Linked DNA regions of Homo sapiens: region 2 is linked to region 1. The links come from fine-mapping of genetic effects on gene expression. Tissue or cell type: whole blood. Region 1 holds a variant in brackets; the other region holds the start of a gene. All regions are shown on one strand. Distances are from middle to middle.

Evidence for each region. PIP is the estimated chance that this variant, and not a neighbour inherited with it, causes the effect.
Region 2: C1orf74 starts here. The variant in region 1 is fine-mapped to the expression of C1orf74 in whole blood (TOPMed, PIP above 0.99).

Annotation. Positions count from the first base shown.
Region 1 is chr1:209,754,946-209,763,051 of GRCh38, reverse strand. TRAF3IP3 (TRAF3 interacting protein 3) reads right to left here and starts at 6,999. Exons shown (of 17, transcript NM_025228.4): 1 at 6,743-6,999; 2 at 3,918-4,018; 3 at 2,668-3,070; 4 at 390-537; 5 at 182-239. The coding sequence starts at 3,012. RefSeq lists enhancers at 6,427-6,836, 7,117-7,276. The variant T/C (reference allele first, on the strand shown) is at 4,371.
Region 2 is chr1:209,781,314-209,789,407 of GRCh38, reverse strand. C1orf74 (chromosome 1 open reading frame 74) reads left to right here and starts at 4,849. Exons shown (of 2, transcript NM_152485.4): 1 at 4,849-5,030; 2 at 5,699-8,094. The coding sequence starts at 5,774. The coding sequence ends at 6,583. It overlaps TRAF3IP3 (TRAF3 interacting protein 3), which reads right to left. Exons shown (of 17, transcript NM_025228.4): 16 at 7,950-8,063; 17 at 7,098-7,352. The coding sequence ends at 7,260. It overlaps IRF6 (interferon regulatory factor 6), which reads left to right. Exons shown (of 9, transcript NM_006147.4): 9 at 764-3,791. The coding sequence ends at 988. RefSeq lists enhancers at 3,911-4,526, 4,711-4,970, 4,527-5,144.

The DNA.
Region 1 (8,106 bases):
TTAAAAATAATGATAATGGACCAAAGAATCAAGTCAGGAGGCAGTGGGTTGATTCCTTCTGAAGAGCCAGTAGGGTGGGGAAGGGCTTCCTCTTTCTTAATTAAGGCGGACATGGAAATTCATTGTGTTCTCTCTAGAGAGGAATGGATGGGATGTGAGAGGGTTAGGGTCAGGAACTCACTTGGTTTGCTGACTGGCATCGTTCTTAATTGTTGGTCCTTCTGCCTTTGTCTGAGTACCTGAGAGATGGAGGATAAGTTGATTTAGAACTTACAGGGAGGAAGTGAGGGAAGTGGGGAGGGACAGGGACTCTCCATTGCCAGTGAGCTGGGACAGTTGTCTCAGGATTCTCTGCAGGCCCTGTGGAGTGAGGGAGGCTCTGCTCTTACCACGGTGGTGTTTGGGTGGCTTCTTGATGGGAGTGTCCTGTGGAGGAAGGCCCCCAGCCTGTGAGGAGAGGTGGTCAGACAGATCCCTGCAGATGCCTGAGGGAGGAGGATGCTGGGCTGGAAAGACTTCAGAGCTGGTGCCTGTCACCTGGAAGGCAAGTGGGGAATGCTGAAAACCACTGCCTGGAGCCTCTTGAAAGACTCTCCTGATGATTTCGGAAGGAAGAACTAACCATCATGTTTGTTATGGACTGAGTGTTTATTGTCCCCCCGCCCAAATCTGTGTGTTGAAATCCTATCTCCCAATGTGATAGTATTAGGAGGTGGAGACTTTGAGAAATAATTAGGTCAGAGCAGGTAGCCCTCATGAATGGGATTAGTGCCATTATTAGAAGAGACACGAGAGAGCTTGCTTTCTCTCTCTGCTCTCTGCCTTGTGAGGACACAATGAGAAGAAGGCCATCTGCATAGTGGGAAGAGTGCTCTCATCAGACACCAGATCTGCAGAATCCATGGGTTTAGAACTCCAGACTCCAGAATTGTAAGAAATAAATTTCTGTTATTTAAGCCACCCAGTCTGTGGTAATTCATTACAGGACGAAGACAATGTTTCAGATCCACAAAACCAAAGTAGCCCACTCAAGCTTTCAGAGCCACACAGGCTTCTCCTGCTCCTGATATCCTTGTCCTGACTGGCAGAAATGGTCCTCCTCAGGCCAGGCATATGTGGAGCTGTACTTTTCTCCAGGTTTTCTCTCTAGAATCTCTAGTTGTTGTTTTTTTTTCTCTCTCTACCTTGTTTGGTTATGGCCACTTACATAGCCAGCATGGTGATGTGGAAAGAGAACTGGTCTGAGTGGGGAGTGAGGGGATCTGGGTTCAGATCCCATCTTTTCTAGGTCTCAGTCTTCTGTCTGTGTAGTGAGGAGTTTGGAATAGATAATCCATAAGGTTCCTTCCATATTCAAAGGAAAGCCTCCTTTCTCTTAGTAACAGCTAGAAAATCATTGAGGTTTTGTGTGAAGACTAGGTAAAGTGGGGAGTTGTGGGAAGGTTTTTTGCTTTAGTATACAGTTCCTTTTCTTTTGCAACTGGGCTCTAGGATCATTTCTCTGAACAGCATCTCCTATTGAGCATAACAGATCCACTAGTTAAGAAGCCCTGATAGAGTACCCACTCTGGGTAGGGAACAATGCCAAGCATTACCATGGAACATAGTGGACACATCCCTGCTGTCAACATGCTCACAACTTCAGTAGGAAGATGGTTTGCTGGCCAAGGTCATCTCAGCATACCCTGGTTTTTGCCAACATTGTTCCTTTCCAGGCCAGACTAATGGGCCCTCTAAGGGTTACACAATCTTAGAAGATTTTAACCTCACAAGGCCCATAGACAGCAGAGGTGGCCTGGAGAAGCCAGGGAAAGCTTCCTGGACCAGATGAGGCTATAGTCAAGTGATTTAATAGAATTGGAATGACACAAGAGGAAGTGAGAAGAGTGGGCACAACAGCCTTGCAGAAGAAAAGAGGACAGATATGTCTGTGTGTGTGTCAAGAAGACTGGCCTGTGTGCTTGGCATATAATAAGCTTTCAGTAAATATTTGATGACTGATGGATGAATGAATGCTGTAAGATAGCTGTAGAAGACATGTGTATATTGCCTAAATTTGAACTGATATAGGCATTAGCTTTGGAATTATTTTTATTTATTTTATTTTTAAGTTTTTTAGAGATAGGGTCTCCCTCTCTTGCCCAGGCTGGAGTGCAATGGTGTGATCATAGCTTATTGCAGCTTCAAACTCCTGGGTTCAAGTAATCCTCCCATCTTTGCCTCCTGATTAGTTAGGACTACAGGTGTGCACCACCATGCCTGGTTAGTTTGTAAAGTTTTTGATAGAGACAGGGTCTTGTCTCTATCAAAAGGCTGGTCTCGAACTCCTGGCCTCAAGTGATCCTCCTGCCTTGGCCTCCCAAAGTACTGGGATTACAGGTATAAGCCAACATGCCCAGCCTGAAATTGTTTTTAAAAATTATTTTTTCTCTCTTATAAGTCAAGTGCAGAACAAAAAGAGCTAAACAAACGAAAACACAACAGCAAAAATCTCTGAATAAGTAGCTGTTGGCAACTTTACTATAAGTAGCTCTTGGCAACTTTACTATATGACTGAGGAAGAAGGACTTGATTTAGGTCACTTTTTAGTGACCTTGAGCCCACCCACCCTCCTTGTCCAGAGAGGGTCCCAGAGCACACAGCAGTATGTCCCTTGACACGGCCCACCTGCTCTCTGGGAGAAGAAATCCTTCTGGCACAAGACAAGGGTTCCTTGAGGACAGTCACCTGTCCTGGCCGCCTGGAGGGCCCTTGCTCCCTGGCCTGGGGATGCTGCGCTTTGCCCTTCTCCTCTAGCTCCAGGTTCCTCCTCCTGAAGAACTGCTGCAGTCGAGCTCTCTGGAGCTGCTCTCTCTGTTGGATCCTCAGCGTCTTCCCCACCTGGCGGCAAGTGGTCACATTGGGACGGCAGCGGCGGCTTTCACGGATCTCTTGCCTGCGCTCACACTTGGCCTCATAGCTCTCAGCCCACCGGGCCAAGCCAGGGGAGGGCCTGGGGTCTGGGCTGATCATGATGACCTCCAAGCACCTGTTGCGCTTGGCTTCCAGTTCCTGGAATAGATGCCTGGATCTGCCAAATGCCAAGAGGGAGGAGAAGGGGAGGGGTCAGAAGATGGGCAGAAAAATGACTATCTCCCTAGACCAGGGGGCAGAAATAGCACAGAGTTCCATCCATGTGGGTTGAAAACTGAGGACATGGTGGTATCAAAGTGGGAGTCAGGACTCTTGGGCTCAGTCTCTAATGAACTAATACAGTCTTATAAAAGTGAATTCCTGCTTTTCTCTAGCCGATGTTTCCCCTTTGTAAAGTAAAAGGGTCTCTATGGCTGCCACTTACTCCTTGACTGAACATCTTACCATGCCTCTGAGTCAGGGGAACATGAGAAATAATTGATTAAAATCATAATGAGCTTATAGCCTCTTGGATGGCAGGTGTGTGTTCATTTTCCAGACTTCTAGAGAAGCAGCTAAGTTGAGCCAATCTGCCCTCTTATCCCCCAGTTGAAAAGGAAAGTCAGTATCTTTACTGGTCTCTTGGTCCAAGCTGTCACTAACATAGTTGAGTGACACTTCTCAAGGATCTGGAGGGCTAACCACACCCCCTCAGGTGGTGACCAGTCCTGTGACCAGCACCCACTGCTCTCTTCTTGACTTTTAGCAACGAGCTTGTGAGCCTGGACCTGGCATGGTTTAGGAGGGAAACCCTACCCTAATTCCTCCAACCTGCTGTCCTGACAATGGTCCATGGGCCCCCCACTCCAAGCTCAGGACTGGGCTGTGTCTCTCAGGTGCAGATCAAGTCCAATCAATATTGACTGAGCATCTGCCACATGCCTAGTGCTGGCCAAAACCCATTTCAGAGCATCTGGCTCCAATACTGTTGGGGCTGAGGGTTCCATTTCTTTAGGATTACCAACCTGTCAGGGTTAATGTTGGTGCCAAGTCTGCTTTCCTTAGCCCAGACACAGATTGTGCCATCCAAACCCACAAGCACATGAATTGTACCTCAATAAGGCTGCTGCAAACAGAAAAGAAACAAAACAAAGACAGTAATCAGAAGTTTCCAGGGAGCCAGGCTTGGTGTAGGGGCCACAGGATGACCCTCTGCATGGCCTTACCTGATATTCACATAGCACCTAGACCTGAATCCCCTTTTCCTTCTCTGTGCCTTTCTCTTTCCTACTCTTCCCCACCTACCTTCTGTAGTTTATCCTCCTAGAACCCTCTGGTCACTTTGCTGAGTTGGGCTGGATTTGGATGAGCTGGATCCTGAGCGTTGGAAATTCTGTGTCCTGCCTCCTCTGATCACTGGAGTCAGACCAGGGACTGATGAAGGAAGAGGGACTCCCCCTCACAGCTGCTGCTGCTTC[T/C]CTTCCTCCCACGACCTCATTACCCACCACCCTGGGAGGAGGGTATCTCAGCTTCACCAACTAGCAGGCATTTGCTAGCTCTAACCCCTTGGGGTTTATTTATAGGCCAAACAGACTCAACAGGTAGCAGACTCTCTGCCCCTTTACTGGGACTTCGCTACTCTGGCTCAGTCTGGAATTCTCTGCAGGATTCTTGTTTTCTCTCTGATCCTACCACTCATTCCCCAGGGTCATGGGTGGGGCAGTCTTCTTCCCTGAGAGGAGTTTTGTGTGGTCAAGCCCTGGACACTCAAATGCCTGACTCTTGAGGGTTGGAGGGGCATACTCTGGTGTCAGGCAGCATTGATTCCAAGCAGAAATGTGAGGTTATTAATGTTTGTCCTCTACATACCCATTCTGAATGGCTCTCTTCTTTGTTTTTCCTTACTTCTTCTTCTCGGATAAGGGTGGGAGTGGGCATAGGGGGTGGTCCCTTGACTTCTTCCCTGCCACTTTCTTTATTTAAAGACTTAAAAGAAAGGGTCTGAGAGACCCATGTCTATTGTTATAAATGACTGAATGGAGGAGACGCAGGATTATGTGCATGTGAACTCCATGTCTAGAACCTACACTCACAGCATCCCTGAGCCACAGCCCCTGGCTATTCTGCCATGGATTGCAGTGGAGAACCCTGGCTCTTGGAGTCACACTGCGTGGACTCATGTCCTGGCTCTGTCACCTACAACCTGTGTGTGTTTTTAGATAAGCTATTAAACATCTCTAAGCCCCAGTCTCCTCATTTATAAAATGGGGCTAGGACCTGCCTTGTAGGTTATAAGGATTAAATGACAAAATGCAGGCCATGCACCTGGCATGGAGCACACAATAAATGTTACCTTTTAATAATAAAGACATAAAGTATTCCTATTAGGTTGGTGCAAAAGTAATTGCGAATATTATCCTTGTTATGCCGATGTTGGATATTGAAGACTTGGTGCTGTAAGACAAAGGCTCCAAGCTAAACTAGCACTTCTAGGACCAAGAATGCCTTCTCTCATCCTCTCAACCCTCTCTCTCTTTGACAGAGTATATTGTTTACCAGATTGAGGGGATGCTGGCCCCAGGCTGAAGTCACATTTACTTCTGACCTCTGGGTTTGGGCTATAAGGAGAAAGGCTTCTCTGTGGTCTGGACATAATTGCCATCCCAATTACACCAAGCCGAAAGGTAAGGAAGAGATGGGGTCTGCCTGTGTCACACATAAGGTGTGAGGTCCCCTCCCTGTTTGGCTCAGCTTCCCCACAGGTTTTGTAGTGGAGGCAGAACATTGAGAATCCTCCTACCTTCTTGCCGCGAAGAGGAAAGGGCTGTGGGGGAGAAGACAGTGCCTGAGATGAGGTCTCTCTGGGCTCTCCACCCAGGCCACCAACCTTAGTCCACTGAAACACACAGCTGCTCTGCTCTCTGCTTCCTTGGGGCAGACATGGAGCCTTCTTACCCAAGAAAGGAGCTGCAGTGGAAATGGCTCCTTAGAGAGGGGAGTGTTCCCAGATGCCTTGGCTACCACACCTGCTAGGATTTGGTGCAGCATGCTGCATAGAACCCTACCCAGGTTTCTGGGATATCTGGACCCTACTGACTTGCTTGAAAACAAGAAGGTATGTGGGACGGCTGACAGGGGTAGGCTGCTAAAGAAAAGGGAACTGGTCCCTGTAGGGTTCAAAGAAAGATCACTTGGCCACTGCCCAGGCTTTCTGGCATCTCTCAGGTTCCCCCCTGGCAGCATGACTGGGCTCACTTAGAGCTTGGAGGAAGAAGGTTTACTGGCTGGGAAGGCTCAGCCTGGTCTCTCAGGCTGCAGAGAGAGAACAGGGCATGGCTCCTCACCTGACTGTGGCTTGACATGCCTTTCTGAGTCTCGCTTTTACTTCCTGGCCATGTTTGTAATGGAGACAATGAATGGCTTCCTGCATGGGTTGGCCTTCCTGGCCCAGAGCTCTCAGTGTGAACTGAGGGGAGAGGGGCCTGCGCTTAAGCTGCTGGGAAGGCAGTCTTGTGTTCAGGGATCCCTGCTTTGAAGAAAACTGTAAAAGGTCATTTAATTCATGCCCATATCACTGGGTAGCCTGAACTCTAAGTCGTTTGACTCACTCCTAATCTAATGTAATCTAATCTACTGGAACAGAGGAGTGGTGCAAGCTGTACCCTGTGCCATGGCTAGCGCCACAGGAAACCAATACAGGATACTTTCTTGGTTACCCAAACCCCTGACACCCTTAAACTATGCCACCCACTCTCCACCCAGGGGAGCTGGGATGGTAGAGCATCTTCTGCCCTACCCCGAAGTTGGAGTTCCCAAACCTGGACACAAAAGCATCCTCCTTCTCAGTTACCTCCTAGTCCCAGGCTCCAACTCAAGCCACTCGGGAAAGCATTCCAGTCCTGGGCAGATCTTGGCTCTGGTCTCAGATGGAGCAAGACAGCAGATGGGTAAAGCACACGCTTTCAATCCATAGGTCTGGGCCCCATTAACACGTCCCTTCTTGGTACCGTCTTTCTTTTTGCACAGCAGCCTTGCTGAAACAGGAAACAGACAAAGCCACAAGGTTCGCAAACCCCAGTTCCTCTCTCTTGCTCTCTGGTATCATCTAAGTGGGCCCCTGAACTCTGAGGCCTCCAGGGCTGGGCTCAGGAGCTCCTCCCATCAGTAGGCACCCCGGCCACCCTTTCTCTTGCTACTGGATTGGTCGGAGCTCTTGGACAGTTTCAAGTCAAGATTCCTTTCCATGATTAGAAAAGGATAGTCCTCTGGGTCAGATTCAGACCTTTGTGGTTTCTATGAGAGGGAAAAAAATGCCTTTTTGGTGGTAAGACCTAGATGAGATGTTCTCAGTGTAGGCTTTCATGTGTATCAGGTAGTTCTTTGTGTAAGGATTTTCCTTTTTCTTTAGCCACCTCTTCCCAATCCTGGTGTTGTAAAGAGTTTCTGCTCTTCTGAAGTAGGTGGTGTCTTTCTCAGATTCTGGAATGAGACCAACTCTGGATTTGCTCCTTTCTGGAGCAATGAGGAGGGAGTGTAAAGGTGGGTAGCTGGGGGATGAAGGAAGGAATAGAAGGCAGAGTCTTCTACACATTTTTTTATCTGGTCAACCGGACTAGGAAATTTAGGGAAAAACTAAAGGGAACTGATTTGCATGCATTAAGATGAAGCCATCACAAATGATGCAGCCAGGAAATTCCCAAGAAGTTCAGGCTAAAATAGTGGAGAGGAAACTGGATTGGGACAAGTTAACTGAGCAGCTTTGTAACCTTGTAAAATTCACCTTGTCTGGATGCTACTCACTGTGGTAGTTGGGTGATGTATGTGGCTCTTTGGAATTCTAAGGTTTGACACATGTGAGGCAGGTAATGAGACTTAAAAATAGCTGTGATAACATTTATTAACATGTGGAGAGTTTGTCACCATTTTCTCTGCTTCTGCTTCTTTCTCTGTTCTTTGAGGAGAAAAAGGACAAGGAATCGGCAGGGAAAAGCAGAGGATGGATTCTCAAGCACTAGGACTGAAGACAAGTGGCATTTACTCAGGATGAGAGACAACAGCTCAAGGCCCTGTGTCTGGAGCTTGACACATAGAGATGGGAATGAGTAGAGGACAGAGGGCTTGGGGAGCCCAAGATGTCAGAAAAAGAGAATTTTGGCCGGGCACAGTGGCTCACACCTGTAATCCCAGCACTTTGGGAGGTCCAGGTGGGTGGAT
Region 2 (8,094 bases), 26 kb before region 1:
GACCCTTTCCAGGTTTTCTTCACACACAAATACACACACACACACACACACACACAATGTAAATTGCACTTTTTTTTTTTTTTGGAGACATGGTCTTGCTGTGTCGCCCAGGCTGCAGTGCAGTGGCACCATCTCAGCCCACTGTGGCCTCAACCTCCCAGGTTCAAGTGATCCTCCCACCTCAGCCTCCCAAGTAGCTGTGACAACAGGCACAGGCTACCATGCCTGGCCTAATTTTATTTTTAGCAGAGATGAGGTCTCACTATGTTGCTCATGCTGGTCTGGAACTCGTGGGCTTAAGTGATCCTCCTGTCTCAGCCTCCCAAAATGCTGGGATTATGGGTGTAAGCCACGATACCTGGCCCTTTCCAGCCTTTCTTAGAAAAACCTTTTGAGTTACTTTTAGGAATATAAATTTATTCTAGGAAGTGGCAGCAAGGCCACTTGGGCTTTGCCCCTGGAGTTGTGTAGCAAGGCAAGCAATAGATGATATTTTGTAAAAAGTCTTGCAAAGTAAGCAGTCATTTATTTAGGCCTGTGATGTAATGTTACATCTAGGTTCTTTACCTTCATTTGAACCAACTTCCACAGTGAGCCTTGGCAGAAGGATGGTCCAGAGAGATGAAGGCATATCCTATATTTAGACATCAGAATGGGGTCTTCCTCAGGGCCTCTTTGGTCTGTCCTTCAATCTTGGGTCCATTGTGCTATTTAAAAATACCTTTTCCTCAGAGGATACACCTGTGTTCTGTGTCCTGAACAGGTCATTCCAGTAGTGGCTCGGATGATCTACGAGATGTTTTCTGGTGATTTCACACGATCCTTTGATAGTGGCAGTGTCCGCCTGCAGATCTCAACCCCAGACATCAAGGATAACATCGTTGCTCAGCTGAAGCAGCTGTACCGCATCCTTCAAACCCAGGAGAGCTGGCAGCCCATGCAGCCCACCCCCAGCATGCAACTGCCCCCTGCCCTGCCTCCCCAGTAATTGTGAATGCCATCTTCTTCCTTCTCTTTTTTATAATATTGTACATATGGATTTTTTTATTGTTTAGATTTAACCAGCTTTTAAATCTCTCTTTTCTCTAACAGTGTTAGAAGTTTGTGATTCTCCAAATATGCCTAGATTTAAAGCTGATTTAATTTATGGAAAAATCACCCTTCAGACTTTGCTTTTCTTTTTCAAATCTCCTAATGGTAGTATGATATAGCATAGTAGAAGGAGATTTGGCCTGGGAGTTTGGACACCAAAGTTCTAGCTGCAGCTTTGCTTCCAATGTGACCTTGAACAAGTCCTTTAACCTCTGGGCTTCAGATTTATTGCTTATAAAGTGAAGAGATTGGAGTAGTGCCTGAAATTGCATCCAGCTTTAGAACGGACTCAATGACCTTCTTCTACTTGTACAAGGCTAAACTGCCTGGAACAGAATCCTTCTGCATTGTTCTTGTACCACATTTTTCCTTGGTTTTGTTAAAGTTTCCTCAAGCACTGATTTGTCCAGGATCGAGCTCTGTTTGACCTGTTCTGCTAGTATAGTAAGCTGGCTCCCTGATGGGGGAAGTGAGAGGGAGAGGAGCTGGCTGGCTGGTTGCTTAGAAACTATGCTTGATATCTAAATAGAAATGGGTGCCAAAGTCTGAAAGTCACCCAGCCTGTGGAGTGAAAGCTCACAAATTTGGCTTCTAAAGGGAAGCTGTTGACACAGAAAGCCTAGGGATTCTGTGGAAGAATAGGTTGTCAGGCATTTACCTTATTACCACTCAAATACCAGTGTGTGTGTGTTGGGGGGGCGGCAGGGAGAGGGGGTAGGTGACAGTATGTGACTCAGGTGTTAGCTTTAAGAGGAAAGAGCTCTATTTTTCTTGTTTTCTTCTCTGAGCTAGACTGAGCTGGGGATCTAAGATGTACTTCTCTGACTACAAAAGGGACAGTATCATTTAGATTTTTTGCAGTTGGAAGAAATGGGTTGTTGAGTGTGTTAAGGCTGGGATGAAGAAGGGCTGGGCAGTACTCTTCTGGAAAGGCTCACCTAGCACGAACCTGCTTGTCTCCCTTACTAGTGGAGGTATCTGAGTGTGAACAGTGAAGGTAAAGAGTGGTATAGAACAATGCAGCTGTATCTGTCACAAACTGGTCTTATCTAGAAACATCTGCTGAGTCTCTAACCCTTTCAGCTTTCTCTTCTTTTTTGAGACAGAGTCTTGCTTTGTTGCCCAGGCTGGAGTGCAGTGGCAAGTCACCACTTACTGCAGCTTTAAGCTCCTGGGCTCAAGCAATCGTCCTGCCCCAGCCTCCTGAGTAGTTGGGACAACAGTCGTGCACTATGATGCTTGGCTAATTTTTTTTTTATTTTTGTAGAGATGAGGTCTTGCTATGTTGCCCAGGCTGGTCTTGAACTCCTGGGCTCAAGCAATCTGGGACCTAAATGGCAAATAAGATGCTAATCTGTGGTTGCAAGCCCCAGTCCTCTTGAATAGTGATGCCTATCTGTCTGTGTCGGGACATAGTAAGGAAGCCCATGTCTAGTCTGGTACCTTTAAACCAGGCCATCTCCAACTTTTCAAAATGACTCAAAAGTTGAGCTAGCCTTATTTTAAAAACTAAAAGTTCAAAATCAGTGGTGACATGAGGACTTATTTATTTAAAGTGCTTAAGCCTTGGTTTTAGAGTTTCTAAGAGACCTAGTGGAATTTGCTATTATGAAAAGCATGAAAAGATTAAGAAACCTGGCTAAAGGTCAGGTGCCCAGCTTCGAGGAAAAGTTGGGCTTTTAGGGACCGGGAAGCATTAAAGGCACAGAAACTTTACATTTTGGGGGTCATTTTGTTGAGTAGGTGAAGTGAGGGATTTGGGCTTGATATTTGGCTGCCCCATCTCTACGTGGGAACTCAAAGTTAAAAACCCACTGTAGGTAAATTAGAAGGGCAGCTCTTGAATCTGGGCCAGTCTATATCCCTTCTGTGAAGTGCTAACAGCCAGGCTATCTGTAGCCTGGGTGGGAGCCCAGATAATGTGAGCTGGTAAAGGGTATTGGAAAAGTGCCAAGAAATGCCAAGCTTTTGGTTCGTAACCACTATAAAAAGTTTATGAACATGTCAGAGGAATGGATGAGTGATTTGTGAGGTCTTAACTAGATACCCCGGTTTCTTCCTTGTTTTGGCTTCTTTTCAGAATGCCGGGAGAGTACATGCAGGGATTCCATCTAATCACCCTCAGCACTCTTTCTCTGGTCCTGCTGGATAGATTTAGATTTCCTTTCTTTTTTTAGGGCCTCAGTCTGCTATCTCCTTTGGTGGCTACCACCACTCACTCCCTTGATATCTTCTACTCCCTTGCCTTCACCTTGCTTAAGACTGAGAAGGGAGTTAGATTTTGTCACTAGCTCTTCTTTTTCCTCACTGTGTACCCCACCAAACAAGATTAGTTCAAGTTAAAAAGAACCTACTGGAGGTAAACTGGGAGAGCAAGTGTTGGATCTGGGCTGGTCCCTTTCCCATAAAATTAGGTCCCTGGTTGTATGTTCCCATAGCACCCCATACTTCCTCTCTCAGAATAATCATTTCCCTTGTAATGCTCAGCATCCGCATCCTGCTTGACTGCAAACTTGCTGAAGGTAGGGACTGTTTGTCTTGGACTTCGCTGCCAGTCCTTAGAACAGTGTCTGGGACACAGTGTGTTCTCAAATATTTGTTGCTGGAATAAATGAATGAACTAAATCAGTCTTTTAGGGATTTACTGTTAACCACCATGGGAAAATTAAATAAATGCGGGGAAGGAAAACGTTCTAAAATTAGAAGACTACTTTCTACTCTCAGCTTCTGATTCCCTCTGAGCTAAGAACCAGACAGCCTTAGGCTGGTAACTCCTATAAGCTGGTCCTCCTCCCATGCTGACCCCATCTTTACTGTACAATTCACTTTTCATGGACTGAAGGCACCACCAAGATAGATCCAGGAGTGACAACTCCAGTGTAGGTGTCCACTGTTCCCTTAATCTCTGTCCTGCTCCAAGTATAAATAAATTGGGGCCATTTCCTTAGATATTGGGGTTTTCTCAAGAAATCCTTTCCCTTCGTGGCATGGGTCAAATCGCTGGTAGTTAAAAAGGTGTTAACTCTTACGTGAAATAACACTTTTTCTTTGTAATGACCTGACTGGAAAGCCTCTGTGTCATCACTTCTCATTTCTTATTTGAAATCAGCAAACTGGATTCAGTAGACATGAACTTAAGCCCCATGAAAGTGGGGGTTTTGTCTGTTTTGCTCACTGCAGTACCTCCAGGGCCTAGCAGCATGACTGGCACATATTTGTTCAAAGTGAATACTCACACCTTCACACCCTCCCTAGAGAGCTGTTGTAGGCCTCTCAAATGTAGGATTTAGGGAAGTCAAGTTAAAAAAAATTAAAACGTTTCAGCACCACCCACAGGTGAGGCTATTCTGCAAAATATGTTGTCTTGAGGTATGTTTCGTCTGGACAAAACGTATTTCCACAGACACAAATCAAAGGTGTTTATTAACTGCTGTGTGCCCTGTTTCTGGATTCCCAGTCAAGTGGGACACCAGACGTCATAACACAGGGAGGACGTTCGGCGAAGCAAAATGAGGGCAGCAGCGGGAAACCAGTTTCACCAGGTTCCGCCTTTTCTCGTTTACTTCCGCCCTTCCCAGTTCCTAAGCCGACAGATGGGGCCGCGTTCAGTCTGGCCGGAAAGGGCGGGCCGCACGGTGGCCCAAACTTCCGGCGCGCAGTAAGGCTGCCTAGCTAGTGATTCTAACGCGAGGCGCGCGAGCGGCTGGATGACGTCACGGAATGGGGGGAAAGAGGGCGGCACTCGAGTGGGTGCGCATGCGCAAGAAGGTGCCTGCGGGACTGGAGCAGAGCGGGCTGCGAGGGTCTTCCCAGCGCAGGCGGGTTTTCCAGTGTTACTTGCGGCTGGGCGTGGGGGACTAGCTGCCTTTCTGGCAGCAGGCAGGAAGCCGCAAAAAGTTTCTGAGCCCCCGAACCTGTAGCGGACGTGGAAAAAGAACGTATGTGAGACAGACTTATGCCTCATTTAGCAAATCACTATAACATGCTCTGGTGTGGGGTGTGTGGATCGGAGAAATCTCATCTTCCGAGGGTCCTTGATGTCGGACAGAAAGGGAAGGCGGGGCCAGCAGAAGTTAAAATACTACCCTTCTGCAGTTCTAGTGGATTTCATTCATTCATTTTTATGTGTCAGGGTGAGATGGTTGTTAGTCCACATTCTGGTGTATATTAATCAAATTACTATTCTTATAACTATTCTCTGGCGGGAAGAGTAGGGGAGTTGTCAGTGGAAAGGATACATTTGGAACTTGGAGCTCTGTCCCAGAAGGGCTTTTGGGCGAAATGCTGTGAATTTTGCCAAACACTGCCCCGCCTCCGCCTCTGCCCCAAATTCCCTACGGTTTGAACCAGAGAACGTAATTTGCAACAGGTGAAATTTAGAATAAAAGCCAGAGGGAATATAAATCTAGCTATAAGGCTAGAAAAACACACGAATTTATGATTGAGGGAGACCAAGTCAACCAGAAAAATCAAGCAGCATCGGTGAAACTATCTTGTCTGGGCTGGGTCGCCATTTCAAAGCAGGGAGGGACAGAATAACCTTTGGAAGATACCGCGATTTAACAGGAAGGCTGTTAATAATTCCCTGCTCCTGCTTTGTTTCTAGGCCCCTCCTCAAGTGTCTGGCTGAAAGATGCCACCCAGGGAAGGGAACTCGGGCTAGCTAAGGAGGCCATTCTTGATGTTGCTTCTAGATCTCATGTCATCACCGAGCCCTCAGCTGCTGGTGGCAGCTGCTCAGCAGACCCTTGGCATGGGAAAGAGACGGAGTCCACCCCAAGCCATCTGCCTTCACTTAGCTGGAGAGGTGCTGGCTGTGGCCCGGGGACTGAAGCCAGCTGTGCTCTATGATTGCAACTGTGCAGGGGCATCAGAGCTCCAGAGCTATCTGGAGGAGCTGAAGGGGCTTGGCTTCCTGACTTTTGGACTTCACATCCTTGAGATTGGAGAAAACAGCCTGATTGTCAGTCCTGAGCATGTATGTCAGCACTTGGAGCAGGTGCTGCTTGGTACCATAGCCTTTGTGGATGTTTCCAGCTGCCAGCGTCACCCTTCTGTCTGCTCCCTGGACCAGCTTCAGGACTTGAAGGCCCTCGTGGCTGAGATCATCACACATTTGCAGGGGCTGCAGAGGGACTTATCTCTAGCAGTCTCCTACAGCAGGCTCCATTCCTCAGACTGGAATCTGTGTACTGTATTTGGGATCCTCCTGGGCTATCCTGTTCCCTATACCTTTCACCTGAACCAGGGAGATGACAACTGCTTAGCTCTGACTCCACTACGAGTATTCACTGCCCGGATCTCATGGTTGCTAGGTCAACCCCCAATCCTGCTCTATTCTTTTAGTGTCCCAGAGAGTTTGTTCCCAGGCCTGAGGGACATTCTAAACACCTGGGAGAAGGACCTCAGAACCCGATTTAGGACTCAGAATGACTTTGCTGATCTCAGCATCTCCTCTGAGATAGTCACACTGCCGGCTGTGGCCCTCTGACTTTAACTCTCCTCCCATATAGAAGGTACTCAGTAAATGATCATCTCTAGGTTGGGGATGGCAAATAATCATCTCAACTGCCAATTCCAAGTGTCTTGAATACACTAAGGCACAATGCTGTAGATCAGTTGGCCACAAATGCAAAGGGCATGTAAATAGGTAATGGTGGTGCTAGTAGCAAATTGGTAGATAGTACATACTTGCCATTTCTATACTAGGAAGTCCTCTTAGTGGAGATGTTTTCATTTTCACTGGATAAAAGATAGAAGGAAGGAGATGATAGAGGAAAAGCAGGGTGATGGAAGACAAGCCAAACACTCTTGCATGGTAACCTTGTAAATATACCTGCTCTATGTGGGTGCTGCATGCTAGGAAAGTAGGGCTGGGGGCTTTTCTGCATGTTTATATGCCTCCAACTGAATTTGAGGAGAGTAGACCACCAGTATGCTTAAATATGTGATACTTGTTAATGTAATACACCATTCAGGAATAAACTGAGAGTTCTGAGGAACAATCTGGTCAGGTGAAGTTTATTTACAGTAGGTTAAGAAATTAATAAAAAGTCAGAAATCCTAAGTCAGTTGGAAAACCCAAGCTGTAATGTACCCAAACCTTCTGAGTTTTTCGCTGAGTTGCTTGCTTCTGATTTTCACCCAAGGCAGTTGTCACAAATTATTCAGATCATCAGGTTGTCTTTATTGGCCAGGAACACTGCCAGTGCTGCAGCAATCACCACCATCAGCACTGGGAGCCATCGCCCACATTGCCTCTGTAGGGGGACAGGGAGACAGAAGAAAGTGGCCATGAGTGGATTGGAAAAGATATAGGCAAAAATCTTTCTTCTTCCTACTCTAGCCCAGTGGAAAACGCTGGGTTGGTGGTGGAGAAAAAGCTTTTTACTCTGTCTCCCATTTTGTCACCTGTCTTGGGATAAAACCACTTAACCAATGTTCTCTGGCCCAGGGAGCCGTATCCATCAGGGACCAGATATATAAATACTGATATGAATAATGAAGGGTGGAAAATAACCCAGCAAAATTATATTCTTTCTTTGTATTCCCCAGTACTTTTGTGTCCTTCTGTTCTTGCCACCATGCTTATCATCGGCTAAAAGAACACCCTTTCATACTTTAGCTAAGAGTAAGTCTTTCCTTCTGGCATTGAGAGTTCTGTGAAAGTTGGGCTTTGATGGACGAGCCAGTGTTTTTTTCAATGGTTGCCATAATGTCAGTATAGTATAAACCAAGCACAGTGGGACAGGATGGCCAGTTGTTGGCGTGGGCTGATATATTTTATGTGCAAAACTTGGTTAAAGAAGGAATCGTCCCATCATCCAGGGCTTTATGGGAAGGAGAGACCCTCTTACTCTGGGAGGCAGCTGCTGGCTCTGGTTCAGCTCTTCTCGACAGTGCTGCAGCTTACGCAGGCAGGAGAGATACTCGTCACTGAGGTTGTCTAATTCTGAATGCAGTTCTCTGCACTGGGGAGAACATCACCAAAGTCATCACTGT